Linked DNA regions of Homo sapiens. The protein of the gene in region 2 interacts with the protein of the main gene of each other region in a pairwise test. Each region holds a gene or a part of one and is shown on either strand. Other genes may lie near its edges. The genes, in order: TEPSIN, ACBD7 and MESD.

Region 1 (7,642 bases), on a different chromosome or scaffold from region 2:
CAGCCAGAGCCCTCACCTGGGCCGGGTCCCGATCAAAGCCCCGCCTTGCTGATCCTGGCCCATCTCTGGCCTCTCCACCTGCTGCCCACCCTCACCCCAGCTGGCCGGCTCGGCCTCCCCTGACGCGCCCTGCCCCCTCCCTCCGCTGGGTCCTCCGTGCCTCCTATGCGTCCCTGGGCCTTTGGCTGCGTCTGTCCCTGCGCTTGCTGCCCCGGGTGCCAGTTTGTTTCTCTGTGTGCCCCACGGGTCTTCCCCCTCCATCCCAGTGCCCACACATAGCAGACTCAGTGCCTGTTCACACATCCTTCCCAGGCTGTGGGTTCCCCTTCTGGGGCTGCTCCTCGGAGCCCAAGACAGAGTGAGGCCATGGGAGGGCGGAGCTGGGAGGCAGGAGAGGCGGGGCCCCGGCCAGTCGGTCTGTCCAGGCAGAAGATGGGTCTGGGGGAGCTGTCCCCGCAGGCTTGGGGGCAGTCCCATGTGCCTCTGCCTAATGAGGACTTGTGGGGGCTTGGCCTGAGATCTTCCATGGGGTGGAGGGAGGCCTGGCTCCAGGTGGTCACTGGGCGCACCATGTCTGGACCCCACCCCAGCCCCTGAGTGGGGAATTCTGGGGAGGGAGACTGAGTCTGTCTCGTGCCACTGCTTGCTTGTGGAGACCTCAGGGTGTACCATCCACTGGGCTCACCCCAAAACCGGTGTCGAAACCAGTGTTGTCCCACTTTATGGCAAGTGGGCATGCAGCTCTAGGTGTTCCGCAGGGGCCAGTGCCCTGGGCCGCCATAGACAGTTGTGACACATGACTTAGGCAGTAGATGCCCCTGAGGGGACGGCAGTGCGGGGGTGCTCTCGCCATCCTCACAGAGCTCCTCACAGCTTTGGGGCCAAGGCAGCACCAGCCATTTATCCTCACCATTCAGCGGGCCAGAGGGCCCCGGGCTCCAGGCCACTCCCGTGGCTGTGGTTGGTGCATGTACGTCGTGGCCTCAGTGGTCTCGGGGACACGCCCTGGGGTGGGGGCTGCAGCAGGTAGGGGGATGGGGCACAGCAGGACCTGAGGATGGGAAAGGCTCTTCTTCAGACCCTGGGTTCTTGTCGGCACCAGAGTCTCTCCTGTGCAGAGGCAGCTATGGATGATGGCTGTTGCCTGCCGTGCCTGGACACTGGCCCTGGGTGACACACAGGCTGTGGGAGGTGTCAGGACAGGCCCTGTGAGGAAAGTGGGTGCCAGATGCCACACGTGAGAGACGGGGCGCCCTGCTCCAGGTGGTGGGTGTGCAGTGAGGATGGCCTGCCCCACGCGCGCAGAGCGTCAGAAAGAGGAAAGAAAACGCAGCTGGCAGTTACAGACAGATTTTCTTTAGTTAAAACCTGAGAGGCACCCCCAGCCGATTGCGGTCAGGAGCACTTTATCTTACAGACTGAATGTTGGTTTTAGGATGAGAGGGCTTATCAGAAGCTCGGAATGTTTATGTGTGTGGAGAAGTTTATGGCAGGGTTGGAAGGAGGGAAGGTTATCTTGGGGCAGGCATCTTTTCAGCCTGGAGGTGGGTTTTCTCGAAGCTGGCATCTTCCCGGCTGGAGAAGGGTTATCTTGGGGCTAGCATGTCTCTGGTTGGGGAGGAGTTTGGAATGTTTCTGGTTGGAGATGTTATTTGTGGTTCATGGTCGTGCTGACCTTAGCCATTAGGCTGATGCCCTATGGATTTAGGCAGTTTTTGGTTAAGGTGAACTTTAGAATGAGGGGCTTGTCCAAGATGGTGATGCTCCTGCTCTGTCACAGAGCAGGGGCAGCGTGGGGTGGCAGGTGGGTGCCCTGGGCTCCTGCAGGGAAGATGGCAGCCTCAGGGTGTCAGTTCATCCAGCCATTGACTCAGCTTGTGGCCGCCAGCCCTGGGCCCAGGGACAGCCAGGAGCATCGTCTCCGAATCACGGGACCAGCCTGCCAGGGTGGAGGTAGACGGCCGAGGGGCGTGAGTGGATTCGCCTGTGACAGAGGCTCTCGAGGGGTTCTCAGAGGCACAGCTCTCAGCCTGAGCCCTGAAAGGATGCCGCGGCCCCAGGTGTAGGCTTGGGGGGCCCTGGGGCCGGAAGATTTAAGGAAAGAAGCCCCAGTTCATCATGACAGGAACTCTCAGAGCAGGGGAGCTCGAGGCGGCTGAGACTGGGGTTGGGTGGGGCTAGGTGGAGCTTTCAGGCTGTGATAAGAACGCTGGTTTCTCCCTCCAGGCCCCGGAAGCCTCTGAGGGGTCCCTGGTGCACCTGGGGCAGGGAGAGTGGGCTTCGGGGAGGCCACACCCGCTCAGGCACCAGGGGTTGCCGACCCTGGGGGAGACGAGGTGGTTGCTGTGGAGAGAGTCTCGCCTCTGTGGGGCATGGGTGAGGGGGAGCTGAGGGTCTGCTCAGGTGTGGCCTCTGCAGGGTCCTGGAGGAGGGCATCCCATTGGCTGTGACAGAAGGGCCTTGGTGGCAGGAACTTGCCACCCTGGAGTGGGCCCAGGGCACCGTGCTCCACAGGGAGCAGCGGTGCCAGGCTCAGCCCTGCCCCCGACTTGCCTTTTCTGTTCTGCAGCTTTTGCAGGGCCCCCAGATCCTCTGCACGGGAACAGCTTGTACCAGAAGGTTCGCGCGGCCGCGCAGGTGAGCCCAGGAGCAGTGTCGCTCTGCGGGGTGCCCCTCCTCCTGTAGAGGGGTGGGATTGGGGCCAGGATGTCAGCTGGGGGGTTTGCAGTTCTCCCATCCGGGACCCCTGCCTCTGCTCCTTGCTGGTGGACACAGAGCCTGTGTCCAGCTGAGTGGCTCAGGAGAAGTGTCCGGGGGACAGAACGGAGCTGATATGGGTGGCAGGGTGAGTACAGCAGGCCCTGGTGTGAGGACACTGAGGGCCTTCGCCTCCCCCTGTAGGACTTGGGGAGCACCCTGTTCTCGGACACCGTGTTGCCGCTGGCTCCCTCCCAGCCTCTGGGGACCCCGCCTGCCACAGGTAGGTGACTGAGGGGACCGTGTCCAGCTCTGGCACCTGGTTTCTGCCTCCTTGAGTGTCCTGGGTGTCTGTGCCATCCGTGGGCAGGGCCGAGGGTGGGGGCCGGCTTGCTGCTAACGGAGGACCCTCTGCAGGCATGGGCTCCCAGGCCAGGCCGCACAGCACCCTCCAGGGTTTCGGCTACAGCAAGGAACACGGCCGCACGGGTGAGTGGGGAGGGCCTGCATGGGCTCTGGCATCTCAGGGTGTGGGGATGAGGAGGTGGTGGGGGCCGGACCATGCCGCCCCATCTAGTAGCTGCTGTCCCCCGTCCCCTCCCCTACATGGCCTCAACCCTTCCTGGGGCTGTCCCCACTGTCTCTCTCTGGCTGCTGACGTGGGGGTGGGGCAGGTGTGGCCAGGGCTGCTTTATGGACAGATGAGAGAAACCAGGCCGAGCAAGAAGTCAGGGCTGGGCCCCGTGGCAGGGGTGAGTCCCACTCTGAGAGGGGCCGAGGGCTGTGCCCCTGGCTGTGGTGCAGGTGACTCAGGCAGTCCCGTGTGGAGCTGTTATGAGGTGGGGCAGTACCAGTGGACAACTGCTCACCAGCGCCAGGAGAGCCACAGGTGGCACCACTGCCTGCGGCTGGGACCCAGCCCCCAGCCCAGCTGTGCCCTGCTGCCGGGCCCTGGGCGGTGTGTAGCTGCTCACCGTTAGGCTGTGTCACGCCGTCCTGCGCACAGCCTGGGGCTCCTGCCGACACTTTGGTGTCGGGGCAGCTTCTACAGGGAACTCACACAGGAAAGGCCGGCCCCTCCCCGAGCCCTGGACACACCCTCCCTGAGCCAAGGCCAAGCCCAAGCCCCTTAGGACACCTTCACCCCCAGAGGACAGAGGGACGGAGGCATAACTCTGCAGTGAGCTTTGGTGTCCAGGCCCACTGGGAGTGGGAATGCCAAAGCGGAGTCCACTGGGAGCTTCCAGAGGGCCTGGGGCCCACCAGGAGGCCTCCCTACCTGCAGCATGTACCCCGACCTCTCCAAGCTTGAGCAGGGAGCCGATGCGGGCACCCTGCTCCCAGAGAACGCGGGTGGGGGCCGCACTGGGCGGCCGTCCCATCTCCCTCTCCTCGGGTACAGGCTCGGCAGGCGAAGCCTTCCTCTCCACCATCCAGAAGGCCGCAGAGGTGGTGGCCAGCGCCATGCGCCCCGGGCCCGAGAGTCCCAGTACCCGGAGGCTCCTGCCGCGGGGTGACACCTACCAGCCTGCCATGATGCCTTCAGCCAGCCACGGTCCCCCAACCCTGGGGAACCTACTCCCCGGGGCCATTCCAGGTCCCCGAGGTATCGAGGCGAGGGCTCCTCCCCTTGGGGTCTGGGTCACTCCTTCCTGTCACCGCTGGGGCTTTGCGGCCACGGAGGCAAATCCCAGGGCCTCCCACACAGCAGGAGGGGTGGGACCCGCGGCGGAAGCACATGCCCATGGGGCTGGTGTTTGCTGAAGCTGGAGCCAAGGTGGCCACCCATCCTCAGCTCAGGACTCAGCCCCCGAGGCCTCCTGGTCCAGGGCCCCGGGAGGTGGGCATGGGGCTGGCCTGAAGCCCCAGGGATCTCACCGGCTGTCCTGTTTCCTCCAGCTGTGAGGCATCAGCCTGGGCAGGCCGGAGGGGGCTGGGATGAGCTGGACAGCGGCCCCAGCTCTCAGAATTCCTCCCAGAACAGCGACCTGAGCAGGGTCTCGGACTCGGGCAGTCATTCCGGCAGCGACAGCCATTCAGGGGCCAGCCGGGAGCCGGGTGACCTGGCAGAAAGGTGAGCGGGAGCTGCCAGATATGTGGGAGAGGTCTCGGAGGCACCACACTGTCCCCCTCCCAGCGCGGCTCCTGCTCTCCAGGTTCTCCCCCATGCGAGACAGGAGTGGGGGCATGGCCTCCACTCACCCTTGACCCGGCCATTCCCCCTGGCAGGGTCGAGGTGGTGGCCCTGAGTGACTGTCAGCAGGAGTTGAGCTTGGTGAGGACTGTGACTCGGGGACCACGCGCCTTCCTGAGCCGCGAGGAGGCACAGCACTTCATCAAAGCGTGAGTGCGCCCGGACCCGCCCTGCTCTGCCTCAGCCCCAACCGTGGGCGAGGGAGGAGGGAACGGGCCGCACCCGCCACCCAGGTGTCCCCTCTGTGCAGGTGTGGACTGCTCAACTGTGAGGCCGTGCTGCAGCTGCTGACCTGCCACCTGCGTGGGACCAGTGAATGCACGCAGCTGGTGAGCTGCACACGCGGGCGGGAGGGCGTGACTGTGTGCATGTGCCTGTGTGCGTGTGTGTGCGTGTGCGTGTGTGTGCACGTGTGCCTGTGTGCACACCTGTGTGTGAACATTCCTCTGTGTGGCTGTGCGTGCGCACATGCCTGTGTGTGTGCGTGTGGGTGTGTATGCCTGTGTATGTATGCCTGTGTGTGTACACACTCGTGCATGTGTGCGGTGTGTACACACTTGTGCACGTGTGTGGTATGCACACATCTGTGTGTGTGTGTACATGACTGCATGTGTGTGGTTGTGTATGTATGTGCCTGTGTGTGTGTGCATGCACATGAAAGTGTGGACACGTGTGTGCGTGTGTCGGGGGGCGTGCGGAGGAATGAAGGTAAGGCAATCGGGGCAGCAGGTCACGTGCTTCTCGCTGGGGTCTGTCCAGGAGCCGGGGAGGACATGGCTCTGGTGTCCGGGAGCTGGGGTGTAAGGCGGTGAAGACAGGGCTCTGGTGTCTGGGAGCGGGGGTGTAAGGTGGTGAGGACAGGGCTGTGGTGTCTGGGATCCGGGGTGTAAGGCGGTGAGGACAGGGCTGTGGTGGAGCTGTCTCTGGGGCCTCCTGGCACTCCAGTCATTGATGAGGAGGAAGAAGAGGGAGAGAGATGGCCAAATAGGCCTCCCTGGCGTGGACCTGCTGCCCCATGGGTGCTGATGTCCCCTCCCTTCACCCGCAGAGGGCGCTGTGTGCCATCGCCTCCCTGGGGAGCAGCGACCTCCTCCCCCAGGAGCACATCCTCCTCCGCACCCGGCCGTGGCTGCAGGAGCTCAGCATGGGCAGCCCGGGACCTGTGACCAACAAGGCCACCAAGGTGGGCAGCTGCGGAGGCCACACGCACACCGGGGTCCAAGGGTACAGTGGGAGATACGCTGCAGTCCACGGCCACCCCGTCCCTGCCCGGCGCCTGGTCAGCCCTTCCCGGACCCCCTCTCAAGTCCCTGTCCCGCTGGCAGAGGGAGCAGCAGCAAGTCAGGGTCCTCACCTCCCCATTGCCTTCCCGCCTTCCACCCAAACTCTGCAGCACTCACAGTACACTGGCCTCTACCTATTCCTGGAAGCCCCCAGACTCCGCTGCCTTAATGTTCCTGCCCTTGTGTCTTGGCCTCACACTTACCTCTTCCAGGAAGCCCTCCCTGACTGCACATGCAGTTTGCCACCCATGACACAGCTCATGCTCAACTCCCAAGCTCCGGAGGGCAGAAATGGTTCCATTCATCTCTGTGCACTTGAACACTCTGAACTGCCTGGCGGCCACTGGAATCACACGGGGAGGCCTCTCCCGGCCGCCAGGCCCTGGCACCTTCCCTCTGCCTGTGGGCATTCCCAGCTTCTTTCTTCCTGTTTTCTCCCTGGCTGCTGGAAACACAGGTCCTCAGTCACCCATCCCCAAGTCATCCTTAACTGTCATTGGCCATCTGCTAGCTCACCTTTCAGTCAGAGCGACGAGTGAGCCTGGGGTTCGCACCACCGCAGGCGAACCTCATAGTGGGGTTTCTAAAACGGGCATGCTGGAAGAACCCTGCGTCCAACAGTTGGAAATGCCCAGATGTGCCAGGCCACGTGTTCACTCCCTCCGGCAGTGCCTGGCGGGTTATGACGGGGAGGGTGTCCATTTGTCTAGTAGTGAGTAAAGGAGCAAGATTCGAGGTGTGTATGTGACACCTGCCCCGTGTCGCCAGCACCAGCCCAGCAGCTGCTCTCGGTGGGATGACAACTGGGTGCACTGCCCCAGCCCCTCCCAGCAGCCGGTGTCCTGCCCAGAGGTGGCCCTGCCCTCTGGGTGGAGGGACTGAGGAGGTCCTAGGGAGAAGCGGGCCCTGGTCCCCACATTTCCCAGGGTTGCATAGGAACCTCCCTGGTTCCTCCTTCCTCTTTCAGATCCTGAGGCACTTTGAGGCCTCCTGTGGGCAGCTGTCCCCTGCCCGGGGCACCTCAGCTGAGCCTGGCCCCACAGCCGCCCTCCCAGGCCCATCTGACCTGCTGACCGACGCTGTGCCTCTCCCTGGGAGCCAGGTCTTCCTGCAGCCTCTGAGTTCAACCCCGGTCTCGTCCCGGAGCCCTGCTCCCTCATCTGGGATGCCGTCCAGCCCTGTGCCCACCCCACCCCCAGATGCCTCCCCCATTCCAGCCCCCGGAGACCCCAGCGAGGCCGAGGCCAGACTGGCAGAAAGCAGGCGGTGGAGACCTGAACGGATCCCAGGGGGCACGGACAGCCCAAAGAGAGGCCCCAGCAGCTGTGCGTGGAGCCGCGACTCCTTGTTTGCTGGCATGGAGCTGGTGGCCTGTCCCCGCCTGGTGGGGGCTGGGGCTGCTGCGGGAGAGTCCTGTCCTGATGCTCCCCGCGCCCCCCAAACATCGTCCCAGAGGACAGCAGCCAAA
Region 2 (7,642 bases):
TTTGCAGGTTAACATTTTACTGTGCACTTCTATAGACATTGTTCAAACGGAGTATATTACTATATTTTAAGTAATTATATATTATAATCGCAATTAATATATTAATTGTAACATATGAATATATTAATATTAATAATATATAATACCAATATTAATGTCTCCAACTATTGCTTGTTTGTAAAGCCCATAGAGTTCTTTCAGTTCTCCATCATCTGGTCTTGCTTTCAGCTTCCTCACATCTTCTGCAGCCCTGTCAAAATCAGCCTAAAGGAAGAACAAACAAACAAACAAAAGGAGCATTTTACCACCAAGGAATAGGAACTCAAAGAGCAGGAAGAGGAAGGTTCCAAGTAGAAATGAACTTCTGCTGCTCTGGTTCTATCAGAATCATCTTAATTTACTTGAATTCCTAGGAGTTCACCTCTCCTGGGACTTACCTAATATGAGGAACTATAGAAAATTCTTAATACAGAAAATGTTCGGTTTAACTTCTTTTTTTTTTTTTTTTTTTGAGCCAAGGTCTGGCTCTCTCGCCCAGGCTGGAGTGCAGTGCAGTGGCACCGTCTCCACTCACTGCAACCTCTACTTCTGGGGCTCAAGCCATTCTCCTACCTCAGCCTCCCAAGTAGCTGGGACTACAGGGGTGCACCACCACACTCGGCTAATTTTTGTATTTTTTGTAGAGATGGGGTTTTGTCATGTTGGCCAGGCTTGTCTTGAACTCCTGACCTCAAGTGATCCCCCTGCCTCGGCCTCCCAAAGTGCTGTGACTACAGGCGTGAGCCACTGAACCTGATGGTGAGTTTGCTTTTTTTTTTTTGAGACTGAGTCTCACTCTGTTGCCCAGGCTGAAGTGCAGTGGCAAGATCTCGGATCACTGCAACCTTCGCCTCCTGGGTTCATGCCATTCTCCTGCCTCAGCCTCCCGAGTAGCTGGGATTATAGGCACCTGCCACCGCGCCTGGCTAAGTTTTGTATTTTTAGTAGACACGGGGTTTAACCATCTTGGCCAGGCTGGTCTTGAACTCCTGACCCTGTGATCCACCCACCTTGGCCTCCCGAAGTGCTGGGATTACAGGTGTGAGCCACCGTGCCCAGCTGCTTTTCTTTTTTTTTTTTTTTGGCATTATTTATACTCATTGAAGGTTTCTCAATCACCTCGCAGATGCGCCCTTCCTCTTCTGCCTCAGTCCAACTTTACTACATGCAGGGGCTTCGCTACCAGTTAATACCATCGTCTAGGGCGTTTCTCTTCCAGTGCCCTCATGCCTACATTCTTTAATATCAGTATTATTTAGACCTAGCCAGTTTCTGAGGGTAATCACTATTCCTGATTTGGCTGAATTGCTTGTACAGATTCCTTTCCACACTAGACCTAAATTATAAGATTTATTGCAACTGATTTCTAGAAAAGAGGAGTTGTTTAGCCAATTTAGAGCTTATTAGGGAAAACTTTGTATACCAATATGCTTGAGTGGTATGTTTTTAGACTTCCTGGAAACTCTATATACAATGTACTTAAGCCTGGTGTGGTGGCTCATGCCTGTAATCCTAGCACTTTGGGATGCTGAGGCAGGGGGATCGCTTGAGGTCAGGAGTTCGAGACCAGCCCGGCCAACATAGCAAAACCCTGTCTCTACTAAAAATACAAAAATTAGCTGGGCTTGGTGGTGCGTGCCTGTAATCCCAGCTGCTCAGGAGTCTGTGGCACAAGAATTGCTTGAACCTGGGAGGCGGAGGTTGCAGTGAGCTGAAATAGCACCACTGCACTCTAGCCTGGGCGACAAAGTGAGACTCTGTCTCAAAAACAAAAACAAAAAACCAAATGTACTTAAGTAGTTTAAGCCTTGTCCTGAGTTAGCTCTGATAACTGGGACCTCCCTAACCCCGCAAGACCCTCAGGCTGGCCCAGGGTTCAGCCAGTGGCTGAAATAGACAAGGAAGTCCAGTCTACTCCAGAGCCTGAGTGTTCCCAGGATCTTTATCCTTTTCCCTTTCTAACCTCTTAGTTTATACTCTACAAAGAGCTTTGTGATTAGTTTCCTTTATAGATTTTTAAACTAAACTGTGTCTTACCTTGCCTTATTTTTTAAAACTCAGGATAAGCAGGAATTGTCAGTAGGCTGGCTGTCAAACAGGGGAAGTTCAAGGACATATGCTGGCCACCCCCTGCCCCCCATACTTCTTCTCTGATGCCAGAGCTCCCTTTGGATCCAAAGGCCTAGGAGAGAAAGTGGATAGCCCCACTGTAACCTCAGTACCCTGCGGGCTCAGCGGAGTGGCAGGGTCAAGTTTCCTTCCAGCCCCAAAGACAGGCAGTACTGTGGCAGGCCAGGTTTCCCTAATGGCTAAACAGGCAGGCCTCCATAACAACCGTTTCAGCACTGACTGAGTGGTTAACGTTAAATACTAAAAGCAGAAAGAGCAAGTGCCCTCATACGAAGACTCCAAGGTAACAAAAGCCCACCAAGAGTTTTGCCCAGGCCCTTCCTGGGGCTTGAGGCATGACAAGATAATGAAGGAATTCTTAACAGGACCCATTTAGGATTAAACAAGTTTTATTGGGGTCTGAAGGAACTCCCCAACCCTCCATGATTTAGCAGGAAATAAGATAAGGGTAATCACTGCAGCACCTGGACCCATCCAGATTAAGTAAATTTACTGAGGCTCCAGAGGAAGGTCTTCAGATCTCAGCCCTTAGTTATATATTAGAAGAAGTTCATCACTTAAGGTTTTAGATGAACGCACACTTACATGCAGACATATAACTTAGCAGGCATATAAGCTCTGGAAAACTCTGTAATTTTGAGTTGGCTTCGCAATAATTTGCAGTCCTTCTCCTTGCACCCAGCTACAGAAATCAAATCTCTTCTCTCCCAGTTTATCTGCATCTCGTTATTGAGCTGAGAGAGTAAGCAGCCGGGCTCTCAGCTTGGTCCACGAACAGTAGCACAACCAGAACAGTTGTTTTGTGAAGAGCACAATCACCTGTAAGTTGGAGATCAGGGTCTTCAGCCTAAATAACCTTGAACGTGGCCCATCCTCCTACCCAGTTCCCACAGGGGACTGAGAAGCACGGGGCATGGAACAAGGGGTGCCTTGTCTTCTGAGTGTCTTCCTAAGAAACTCTTGGCTGCTTTATACATAATGCCATGGTTAAGAACATGGCTCTGGAGCCAGACTGCCTTGATTGGAATCTCAACTCCATCTCTTAAGAGCTGTGTGACCAGGCTGGGCGCAGTGGCTCACACCTGTAATCCCAGCACTTTGGGAGGCCAAGGCAGGTGGATCACCTAAGGTTGGGAGTTTGAGACCAGCCTGACCAACATGGAGAAACCCGTCTCTACTGAAAATACAAAATTAGCTGGGCATAGTGGCACATGCCTGTAATCCCAGCTACTCGGGAGGCTGAGGCAGGAGAATCGCTTGAACCCTGGAGGTAGAGGTTGCAGTGAGCCGAGATCATGCCACTACACTCCAGCCTGGGCAACAGAGCAAGACTATCTCAAAAAAAAAAAAAAAAAAAAGGTACTTGCAATAAAGCAAGACATAAGAAATACTTTTAGTTTATGGTTTAGCAAAGAACACAAATTCTTTTTATACACTCAGCTTTGTAAGTAGTATAGAAAAAATAAAAACTAGAAAGATGTATACTAAAGATATGTAAACAGTAATTGCCTCTGATTACTGGCAAGTTATGTAGTTTTAAAATATTTTTGTACTCTCCAAATCTTCTATAATGTGCATGGATTGTGTTTATAATAAGAACAAAATTGAAATGCTACATGAGTGGCTGAGCTGCTTGAGGGCAAGGCTATGCAGAAGGGGTGTAGGACCTTCCTCTGTAGGTTTATAGGCCATCTCAGGTGTTCTGCTTGCTGTAAAGTCTCATATTATTTTCCAGTGACAGCAACTCGACTCCTTTTGAGGTGCCAAGCCTTAATTAGAATTCTAAGCCTTCTTGAAAACCCATATGAGGGCTGGGTGCAGTGGCTCACGTCTGTAATCCCAGCATTTTGGGAGGCTGAGGGAGGTGGCTCACTTAAGGTCAAGAGTTCGAGACCAGCCTGGCCAAAATGGTGAAACACCGTCTCTACTAAAAATACAAAAAATTAGCTGGGCACGGTGCCTCACACCTGTGATCCCAGCTACTCAGGAGACTGAGGCAGGAAAATAGTTTGAACCCAGGAGCAGAGGTTGCAGTGAGCCAAGATCCTGCCACTGCACTCCAGCCTGGGTGACAGAGCAAGACTCCGTCTCAAAAAAAAGAAAAAAGAAAAGAAAAAAAGATCTAATGAAAGTCCTGGACCCCTCTGCACAGAAGAGCTATGCCCTCACACAGTTTCCCATGCCATTTCAGGGGTCCCCGCTCTTTCTCCCTCCCTAGGTAGGGAACTCAGTTCTAGAGCAGGGGCCAGCATCATTCTCTCTGTCTAGCCTGTCTGGTTCTGGCACCTCAGTGCAATACATTCCTGCCTTAAGGGGCTGTTCTGATGCACCTTCCTGCAGGAGGCCTTTCCCATCCCAGCCATGATGAGCTGGAGTACAAACAACATTGGCCTTGGCCAGGATACTCAGGTTTGACTTCCAGCTTTGAGACACACTGCCCTGGGACTCGATGCAACAAACAAAGCTCCTCTAAGATGCAGCTTCGGCCACAAAAAGAGAATATCAGCCTCTTTTTGTGCTAGGGTTAAGGATGATTAAGAATATAATTTTCTTTTTGAGACAGTCTCGCTCTGTTGTCCAAGCTAGAGTACAGCGGCACAATCACGGCTCACTGCAACCTCCACCTCCTGGTTCAAGCGATCCTCCCACCTCAGCCTCCCAAGTAGCTAGGATTACAGGCATGCACCACCACGCCTGGCTAATTTTTTTGTATTTTTAATAAAGATAGGGTTTTGCCATGTTGGCCAAGCTGGTCTTGAACTCCTGAACTCAAGTGACCTGCCTACCTCTGCTTCCCAAAGTGCTGGGATTACAGGCGTGAGCCACGATGCCCGGCCAAGAATGTAAAATATTCTTGATTTGATCCTATGGAGTCTGCCCTCCCAGAGTTCATCTCACAGCTCATACTAATTAACAAACCTACTTACTGAACACCTCCGACAGGCCAGGCCTTTGCCAGGCAGATGGGCATGCACAAGGCAGCGTGCTTGAAGGCGCTCATAGCCTGGTGGGAGATGAACAGGGCAACGGTGACCACAGGGGACTTGCTGCAAATAAGGTGCAGCAGTTGCTCTGGGAACACAGGAGGTAGCACAGACGGGAAGGTACGGAACGGAAAAAGCCATCCCTGAGATGAGATGGGATCGGGTCTGCGATTGTTGGCTGCAGAGGGGCAGGGAAAGCTGCTCCCAGCGGTGTGGACAGAACTTACTAGAGCTCAACATAAAGGCTATGTGGGGTTGCATAAATACTCACAAATCAATAAATAAACAATCAATCAATAATCACCTTGGCAGCACCCACGGGGCCTCACGGACTGCTGGTGGGTGGCGTGAGCCTGGTCTGAGTCTATTAAGTACATCCTTGTTGGATGGTTAACGAGCGAGCAGACTTTAGGGGGATCAGAAAGTTATCATAGGTGAGATGCAGCTTTAAATATAGAGCCATGGACATTGAATTCCAAAGCATTCTTGTTACCAGTGGAGGGTGCCCAAGTTCTTGGCATTTTGAACAAAAAATTGGACAAAATGCACAAACAAAGCAAGGAAACAATGAAGCAACAAAAGCCGAGATTTACTGAAAGCGAAAGTACATTCCACAGGGTGGGAGCAGGCCGAGCACAGGGACTCAAGATCCCTGTTACAGAATTTTCTGTGCTTAAACGCCCTCCAGAGGCTTCCCATTGGTTACTTGGTGTGCATCCTATGTAAATGAAGTAGCGGCCTGCAATCAGAGGCTGAAGTTACAAAGTTACACTTCTATGCAAATAAAGACTTGGCTCACGATCAGTCTGACTGGTTGGGGAAAGCAACCAATCAGAGGCTGAAATGAAGTTACAAAGGTACATTCCTGTGCAAATGTCTGATTGGTTGCAGAAAGCAACCAGTCAGAGATACTTTCAATTTTCCATCTGCCACACAGAAAGTGGGGAGGAGGTTGCAAAGGGAGTAGCCTCCGGTCCTTTTATTACATAGGTGTGGAAAGTTGGGGTTTTGATTTAGTTCTACAAAGTCAGTGTGAATCGGCCTTAGGTTCCCTGCCTCCAGACCCTATTCTCCTGCCTCATCCTGAGAGAAAGGCATCACAGTTTTGCAGTATCCTGTTGCAGAGCTGGGCTTGCTGCCTTTGGCAGGAACTGCAGCCAATGCTGAGCTGATTTCTCCTGAGCGAGGGGTCCTCGGCATCCTGGTTGAATGTTTTGTGCATTATCTCCCGGTCACCCGAGCTTGGGATTCTGCAAGACAAACTGCCTTAAGGCTACTACAGCCCCTCCCTGGACTCTCTCCTGTTCAACTTTTGACACTAGGCTCCCTCACCCCACCTTTGGCGTAGAAGTTACGCCAGCATCACTCACACTGGGTACATCCTGGGTGCATCCTTCCGTGCTGACTAGGCGGGCTGCTGTGTAAATTACCTTTCACATTTCAGCCCCGCTGAAGACAGCCTCCGAGGGTGGCTCTCACCTCACCTGACTTTACTTTCTGCAATGAACATGGTCATCCCACATAGGGGGTTGGCAAGGTCTTCTTGAGCAATTCTTTCCCATTGAGCAACCCAATTAAGAAGATAAAAAATTCTCACACTCAAGGAACTGCAGGGTTCTTAGGTCACACAAATGTGGGCTGGGGGAAGAGGTTAGTCTTTTTTTGCCAGTTGTTAAAATCATCAGTACCCTAGACTTGAAAAGATACATATTCTAGAGGAAGAAGTCTGTTTTTTAGCTTCATCATCTAGGAAAGAAATTTGTCCATTTAGGATAAACATCAGCTCTCCTAAATGCTTTGGTGAGGATGGAAACATATTGTAATTTTCAGATAAAATCAGGAGGCTATAGCCGAATTAGAAATTCCATTTGTTTTGCTACTCCAATGACAGTCTGCCAGTATACTTATTCTTGTGTAAATAAATAGAAGACTGGGGACCCTGAACTAGTCACCTTTCCTCTCATTTCCACTCAGTGAGCATCTTGGCAGAACACTAGTACCAATATGATCCCCGCACATGCCAGTGAGGTAATAAAGACAGAAGAGATTTCAATATGTCAGCCAGTTATTAGTTGTCATTTTTAAAAGTTACTTTCAGCTGGGCGTGGTAGCTCACATCTGTAATCCCAGCACTTTGGGAGGCTGAGGCAGGCAGATCACTTGAGGTCAGGAGTTCAAGACCAGCCTGGCCAACATGGTGAAACCCTGTCTCTACTAAAAATACAAAAATTAGCCGGCCGTGGTGGCAGGCACCTGTAATTCCAGCTACTAGGAGGCTAAGGCAGGAGAATTGCTTGAATCTGGGAGGTGGAGGTTGCAGTGAGTCAAGATCACGCCATTGCACTCCAGCCTGGGCAACAGAGCAAGACACCATCTCAAAAAAAAAAAAAGTTACCTTCCCCCAATATTGTTGACACGCAAATGCATTATTAGTAGATAATATCATGGGTCGATGTTAATACTTCTTAGCATACTGCTTTTCTGTGATG
Region 3 (8,040 bases), on a different chromosome or scaffold from region 2:
TGTTCCCAACACAAAGAAATGATTAATGTTTAGGAGACAGATATGCTAATTACCCTGAATTGACCATTACATTTTATACATGTGTAGAAATACAACTCTGTACCCCATAAATATGTATAATTATTATATGTTAAAATTGAAGTGTAAAAATAGTACCCTAGATGTACATAATTATCCAGTTCTACCCTTAGTCTGGGTAACCTAACCTGTTATGATCAGTGTGTTTATGCTGAAAACAATCCAGTCTTTACCCTGAGGCAGAGCGGGGGGCCAGGGACAAGTCAGGCAGTCCCCTGACTCCAGTCCTAGCCCTGCCTCCAGGCCAGTCTTGCATTTTCAACTGGCTTTAGAGCTCCTTCATTACTGTTTGTCTAAGTCAGTAGCTACAAAGCTGAGCTCCCCTTTCTGCAAATCCTCTTCTTCCTCCCATGGTTCTTGATATTAATAATAAGTGACATCTACTAAGTAGCTACTAAGTCCCAGGCACTCTACATATATTATCTCCAACCTTCAGAACAATCCTACCCGGTTCCATTTAATATACAAGGAAGATGATGTTCAGAGAGGATAAATGATTTACTTAATTTACTCACATGCTAGAAGTGCAAACCACATTTCTGGCTCCAAATCCCTCCAACTGCCTCTTCCCATTATACCTGGCTATCATAATGTAAAATGTAATAACCACCTTTGGTTTTTCTACACCAATTGGGACTCAGAATTAGTTGTAACACAATGGAAGGAATTCTCACCTCTCCACACCTCTGAGGCACAGCCTCTCACTGAAGCACTGTTTCTCACACTGCTGGGGAAGGAGTGAGGGTATGGATTTAGAGATGGTCACAAGAGGAGAAGAACTGCTTCCTACAAAAAAAGCACCCACAGAGATGGATACGCTCTCCCACATAAAAAACACTGCTACTGGGGAAGAGTCCTCATGTCTGTAGAGCGTCTACAAACATTAACTCATTTAATCCGCATGGCACCCTGCAAAGTAGGGCGTTATCTGGCTTTACAGATACGTAAAACTAGGATGAAGTAGCTAGTGAGGGGTAAAGCTGAGTTCAAAATCTGTCTTTTTTTTTTTTTTTGAGACAGAGTCTCACCCTGTCGCCCAGGCTGGAGTGCAGTGGCATGATCTTGGCTCACTGCAACCTCCACCTCCCTGGTTCAAGCGATTCTTGTGCCTCAGCCTCCCAAGTAGCTGGGATTACAGGTGCCCGCCACCATGCCCAACTAATTTTTTTATTTTTAGTAGAGATGGAGTTTCACCATGTTGGCCAGGCTGGTCTTGAACTCCTGACCTCAGGTGATGCACCCGCCTTTGCCTCCCAAAGTGTTGGGATTACAGGCGTGAGCCACTGCGCCCAGCCAACCTGTCTTTTTACTACATTATGTGGCCCTGCTATTCACAAAATCAATCAATTGCCCAGGCATGGTGGCTCACGCCCGTAATCCCAACACTTTGGGAAGCCAAGGTGGGAGGACTGCAAAGGCCAAGAGTTCAAAACCAGCCCAGCCAACATAAGGAGACCCTGTCTCTATAAAAAATAATTTAAAAAACAAAATCAACCATCAAGTCCTGTTAAAAGTATAAAAATCTCACATTTCTCCCTTCTACTCTGCTCCTGCAGTTTCTAGCTTAATCCACGTCTTCCTCACTATCCTTCATTTGCACTTCTGTCACCAACATGTGTGGCAGTACAGGTAAAACAGTTCAAAGAACTGGCTCTAAAAGTCGCGAAAGAATTTGAAACTCAGCTAGCTTGCTGTGCGATGTGGAGCAAGTTATTTAACCTCTTTGTGTCTCAATGTCATCATCTAGAAAATAGGGATAAGTACCTCCCTCATGGATGGGGTAAAAGGATTAAATGAGATAATGTGTTTTTCTTGGCCTTCAAAGTCTCTCCCCACTCATCCATCCTGTTATCTACTGTTCCCAGTGCAATCTTTGTTCATCTCTTCAGCACCCTCTTCGTCTAGCTCAGGGTCTGAGTAGGTCAAGGGGAGGATTTCTCATGAGGTGATGTTCTCACTCTGGCAGATCAAAAGGCTTTATTTGCTGGAGTCCAAAAAGAGACAAGGAGATTGCAAGGGAGACGGTGAATGGGGACGTTCTCTCTACACTCAAATCTATCCCAATCTTTCCATCAGCTGTTGATGACCACATGAAAACACAAGCCTGCATTCTTCTAGTCAGATGCATCAGGTGGTATTTTAAACTCTTGTCTGAAAGTCTTTCCCTTCTCCCGTAACACACACAGAGATAATCACAAAATAACAAAACATCAGTGTTGGAAGGAATCTTAGGACCCATCCTAACCTCCTCATGTTGCAGATAAAGAAACCGAGGCCTAGAAACTAGACATAACCTGCCCAAGGTTCCACAGCTATGCAAGTCAACCAGGACGATACAATCACCTTAGGAAGGGGAAAAGGCAGCAATGTGGTTTTGGCCAGTAATCTTTACCTTAAAGCGTATTACACACTCCCTGTAACTGCACACTCCGGTGCGTCCAAGTGACAAACCAGAAAACTTACTCTCCTTTGAACAAAAAGCGTGAGTTTCACGATACAGAGCCATTAGCCATTGATACTTCTCCCCTCAGTAAAATAAATCCACCCACAAAAAGCACAAAATTCCCAGCAGGGACATATACCAAAATAGGAAGTCTAAAATTATACTGATTTAGAAGACAGCTGAGATAACCATTAAGGAAGACCATCTTCACTGCAACCCACTCTCCCACCCACTCACCGCAAAACAGAAGGAAATGCTCTTTAGTAGATTGGGAAAGGTCACTCTCCCTGTTTGCAGGGCTCACTGACCACAAGAATCAACGCAAAGACAACCAGGGCACTGAAGGGTGAAGGGAGAGCAAAGCTGAACAGTGAGGGGCAGATCCGTGATTGAAGTGGTTTGAGAAATGGCAGGAGGAACAGGGCACTGGAATGACAGAGGGCTGGAGCGAGGGTCAGCAGGGCGCGCGGGTCAGAGGAGGAATGGAGGGTCAACAGTGGCTTCAGTGGGTCAGTAAGGATTCAAGGCATGAGTAGAGGAGGTTAGGGGGTCAGAAAGGTCCCAAGACAGAACAGGTAAGGGGTCATAGGGAACAGGGTCCCGCACAGAGAAGAGCCGGGAGGGTGTGCGCGCGCCGCGGACCTCCCATTGCTCCAGAAGACGCGCCATGTCTGCATCATTGTAATCGCGAATATCCTTCTTCTTCTTCCGGGGAGGTGGGGTAGACTCGTCGGGCGTCCCGGGCGAGCCTTCGGCCGCGCAGGACCCAGGCGGTGGTAGCAGTAGCAGCAGCAGCAGCAGGTCAGAGGCACAAAGCAGGACCACGGCCTTGCGCGCCCACCTGGAAGCCGCCATTTTCGCTGCGCCGCGCAGCGCCCTAGACGCGCTTACCCGACCTGCGCGGGCCGGACCCCGCCTTGCACACGCCTTCCTGTCCGCCTTTCCGAGGCCCCGCCTCCCGGCCCTCGCTAGCCTACCGGGCCCCGCCCCGTACCATTTCCTAACCCCCGCCTCTGGAAGCCCCGCCCCTCCGCCATTTTGGCCCCGCCCCACTGGCTCCTCCTCTTGGTCCGGCTGAGGCGCTCTGTCCCGGCTGGGTGGGTCCCTGAGTGCTCATTTTTCGTTTTCCGTCAGAGGCCGACCTTTTTCTCTGGAACGCACAAGCCAGGTCCAAAAGTTCCTTCAGGGCCTCCAGGAACCACTAACCAACGTCCCTGTTGACCTCAGTTTCTCGCCTGTGAAATAAATTGGAACTGGAAGTTCTGGAGGCTGCCTCGGCTCTAAAAAAGCCCATTTCTGGATGTCGGACGTTTATCCTCAGTCTCTTGCAATTTCCTTTGAGAACAGCCAGTTAAAAAGAAGTGAGTGGCAGGTAGGGCAACTTTTTTCAGAAAGTCATAAATAGTTCGAGTCCACTGCTTTCCTCATCAATAAAGAGGATTCAGTTCAACCAGCTTTCAATATTTGTTTTTTTTTTCCAAAAAGATCATTACTATTCATCCAAAAAAAAAAAAGCTTGCCTTTCTTTGATTTCAACCTAATACTGTAGGCTCTAACTAATCCTTTTCAAGGCTGAATCACGCTACTTTTTGTTTCTTAAAAAGATTTTGGCCAAAGATGCTTTGAGATTCTTCTTGTTTTAAACGGCTCATCAGCTGATGTCTTTAAAATGTTTAATTACATAAGACCTTAAAAAACAAAAAACAAAAAAAACCAAAGGCCGCACGGTGGCTTAAGCCTTTATAATCCCAGCACTTTGGGAGGCTGAGGTAGGACGATAATTTGAGTTTAGGAGTTTGAGACCAGACTGGGCAATAAAGCAAGACCCGCATCTCAAAAACAACAACAAAAAACGCTTCATTCTTTATACTGCTGCACAGTTTTATTTGGTATTGTTAAATTAATAGTTTATTTTCCTATTGATGGGCATTTATTACCAATTTTTCTGCTATTACAACAAAAAAGAGCTGTAGTAAACCTTATTCAAGCCTTGTTTGGATAGGATTAGTAGGCTGCATATAAAAGAAAACTGACTTTTTAAGGTGGTTTAAACAAGATAAAAGGTTTTATTGTGATTGACTTTTCTTTCACAGAAGCAGTGTAAACTCGAAACTAGGGCTGGTATAGTGGCTTCTCAGCCATCTGGTACTCAGCCTCTTCCTCATCCTTCTATCATATTAGCCTGTGGCTTCCACCCTCAAGGTCAGAAATTCCAGGATGGCTCCTGGAGCTCCAGTCATCAAGATGACATTCAACCAGAGGAAGGGAGAAGGCAGGCCAAACCAAGCACACCTTTCAAGTGGAGTCAACTTCTTTTAAGCAGCCTACTTGAACATTGCATACATTTCTGTTTACATCTCATTGGCTGGAACCTAGCTCTCCAAGGGAGGCTGAGAAATTGTCTTCTAGCTGTATACATTGTCATCTCAAATGAAATTAGGATTGTTATAAAGGGAAAAGAATAAAGTGGAGGTTGAGTAGGCAACTACGCCTGCTTTCCTTCACTCTTAGGACCAGTGCAATTTAAATTCTCTCACACCGTAGGAGTGGCTGATATTCTACATATTCATGCATGCATCTGTATGTAAACACGCTAAGCTATGACCTTTCCTATTGACGTTGAGCAGAAACAACTCATAAGAAAAAGATTTTTTCTTTTGTGAAATCATAGGGGAAATGTCATGAGCTTTCTCCCCAGAGCACATTGCTCCACCCAGTGGCTTGGAGCCCTATCCTAGTGCAGTCATACTAAAAAACATGCACAGCTGTGGCTGATCATGTGCTCTACTGGGAGGGGTCACCCTGGTAATTCATATTGCCAGCTTCAAAGTTAAGGGGCAAACGTGTTGGGATTCTTGGCCCACATATCTAGTTATAGAGAATAAGATCATTGAAAGTTTTACAGAAATTGTTGGGAATGTGTAGAAAGTTTCAGGGCTACTGACTTTCCTCTAAGGAGGAAATCAATTCGGCATATAATCCACTGATATGAAAACATCTGGATCAATTGCATTTTCAACATTTGGATATTTGAAACTTACTTTAGTGTTTGGAACTTGATTCCATTCAACTTGGGGGGAATTTTATTTACCAAAGACCTATTGTTAACCAAGAATCAGGTGAGGCACTGATGCAAAAATGAATATAACAATATCCTTACTCTGGCAGAGCAGATAAACAATATGCAGTAAATTTCATGCAGATTACAGGAGATCCGGGCCCAAAGGGATGATGTGATGATGATGATAATCTCTCCAATTTAAATAAGAGGAAATCCTGGTTTTACAATTACACAATTTGTCTGAGGCTGCACAGCTAGTGCAGCGGCAAGGCAAGAATCTAAGCCGAGGTGTACTGGATAACAAGGTCCAGTCTTCTTGGAGTCCTTCTTCCGCCACAGCACCATCTAGGTTAATCAGTGAGGCACTCAGGATGGTTAAATTGGGAGCCAAATGGAAAATGCATTGAAAAGTCTGGAGCGAGGAGCACTCAGATGGGACAAGAGTCTGTGCCAGGTACCAGGTGGTGCAGTGTAGACTGGAGAGGACAGATGTGAAAGATTGTGTGCTCATGGCCTAAGTGAAGCCACAAGTCTCTTCAGTGCTCTGGGGTTAATACTAACCCCACCTCTAAGTGATTCAGTGACTGTGGATGGTAAAGTTGAATCTCAGATCTAATTAGTGTCTTAACCTGAGCTCATCCTGGCATGCATCATTCCACAACAGAGGAGGGTGAAGCAAGACTTTCTAGTACTATTTGGAAGCAGGCGGGGGTAATATTCAAAATGTTGAAAAACTGGAGTAGCACAATTACCAGTTAATCAGAACTGAGGCAGATGAGCTGATGGGTACAGTCACCATTGTGCCAAACATTAACCCTCTAATGACTGACTCATGGGAAGGCATAGGAGGAGAGGCCTGGGGATGGGCTGAGAGAGGTAATGAGTATTTACCATTTTGCACTTTTGTTGCTTTTTAATCCAATGTAAGAATAGACGTACTGCATACTTCCTGGGTTTTACCAGCCCCTAAATTTACTCACTTAAAAAATTTAATTACATAGACACGAATCATTCATTGTAGTTGCTAAATATTGGTAGCAACTAACTCGTTGCCTTTTGTTGGAATTTCAGATTTTCAGTAGAGAATGTGACTGGCCCAGTCTGAGGCAGGTGTCCATTCCTGGTCACCACCATTATTTTTGGGCAGAAGAGCATACTCACAGAGTTAAACATAATAATTAAAATTGTGTTTTCCTGGCTGGGCATGGTGGCTCATGCCTATAATCCCAGCACTTTGGGAGGCTGAGGCGGGCAGATCGCCTGAGGTCAGGAGTTTGAGACCAGCCTGGCCAAGATGGTGAAACCCCGTCTCTACTAAAAATACAAAAATTAGCTGGGTGTGGTGGCATGCACCTGTAATCCCAGCTACTCGGGAGGCTGAGGCAGGAGAATTGCTTGAACCCGGGAGGCAGAGGTGGCAGTGAGCCGAGGTTGTGCCACTGCACTCTAGCCTGGGTGACAGAGTAACACTCTGTCTCCAAAAAAAAAAAACAACTTATAAATCAATAAGAAAAAGATGAACAACCAAATGAAAAACGGTCTAGGACATGAATAGGTAATTCCCAAAAGAATAAATATAAATGGCCAGTTCACATGTGGCAAAAACAAAACAAAACACAGAATCTCTCTAATATCAAAAAATGCAAATTCAAACATGTTATAATTTTTAAATTATCAGTTGATCCTGGATAAAAATACAGACAGTATACACTGTTGACAAGGCTAAGGAAAGAAGTCTTCTCACTCACTTCTCGGGGGATGGAGTTTTCTGCTTGAAAATTAGGTGAAATGTATCAACTCCCCCTCCCCACAAAAAAGTGCATAATATGATTAGCAAGTCTACTTCCAAGAACTTGACTCTGAGGAAACAGACAATGAAAATAATAGTAATGTTAATATTGAGCACTTACTATTCGACAGGCATTCTGCTGAGTGCTTTCCGTGTATTTCTTCACTTACCCAATGTAACAATCCTATAACACTCTCCATGAGTGGGGAAAATGAGAACAACTCTAAGTGTTTCAAAAATTGTAGACTATAAAATCTACATTTACAGTTGCAAGCTGTATTCCACACATATGATGGATAATATGCAATCAAATATATATATTTGTTGCTACTAAAGATATTCATTTTATACTATATGATTTTAAATGCTATTAAAATTATACAGATATATATCTATGTATAGGAAAAGAGCTGCAAATATGTATACGATGGCTGTCTCTAAGCAGTGAGATTCCAAAATATTTTAACCTTTTCTCTGTATTTTCTATTTTTCTTCACATCTAACATACGTCAGTGGTGGTGTGTTGTTTTTGTTTGTTTGTTTTTTTGAGACAGGGTCTTGCTCTGTCACCCAGACTGGAGTGCAGCGGCCAGATATTGGCTCTCTGCAACCTCCACCTCTCAGGCTCAAGGGATCCTCCCGCCTCAGCCTCCCATACCACACCTGGCT

The links.
Region 1: the proteins of ACBD7 (region 2) and TEPSIN interact in binary tests that used the Homo sapiens proteins (3 or more experiments, as listed by UniProt).
Region 3: the proteins of ACBD7 (region 2) and MESD interact in binary tests that used the Homo sapiens proteins (3 or more experiments, as listed by UniProt).

The regions. Positions count from the first base shown.
Region 1 is NC_000017.11:81,228,976-81,236,617, reverse strand, and holds part of TEPSIN (AP-4 complex accessory subunit tepsin), read left to right. Parts: intron 1-1,334; exon of another isoform or gene 1,335-2,569; coding exon 2,570-2,637; exon of another isoform or gene 2,638-2,679; intron 2,680-2,901; coding exon 2,902-2,980; intron 2,981-3,016; exon of another isoform or gene 3,017-3,114; coding exon 3,115-3,186; intron 3,187-4,099; coding exon 4,100-4,303; intron 4,304-4,408; exon of another isoform or gene 4,409-4,596; coding exon 4,597-4,771; intron 4,772-4,926; coding exon 4,927-5,040; intron 5,041-5,141; coding exon 5,142-5,220; intron 5,221-5,939; coding exon 5,940-6,074; intron 6,075-6,377; exon of another isoform or gene 6,378-6,616; intron 6,617-6,690; exon of another isoform or gene 6,691-6,880; intron 6,881-7,141; coding exon 7,142-7,642. UniProt on the Homo sapiens protein: Associates with the adapter-like complex 4 (AP-4) and may therefore play a role in vesicular trafficking of proteins at the trans-Golgi network.
Region 2 is NC_000010.11:15,078,777-15,086,418, forward strand, and holds part of ACBD7 (acyl-CoA-binding domain-containing protein 7), read right to left. Parts: intron 265-7,642; coding exon 147-264; intron 1-146. UniProt on the Homo sapiens protein: Binds medium- and long-chain acyl-CoA esters.
Region 3 is NC_000015.10:80,986,416-80,994,455, forward strand, and holds the start of MESD (LRP chaperone MESD precursor), read right to left. Parts: upstream 3,405-8,040; 5' UTR 3,377-3,404; coding exon 3,164-3,376; intron 1-3,163. UniProt on the Homo sapiens protein: Chaperone specifically assisting the folding of beta-propeller/EGF modules within the family of low-density lipoprotein receptors (LDLRs).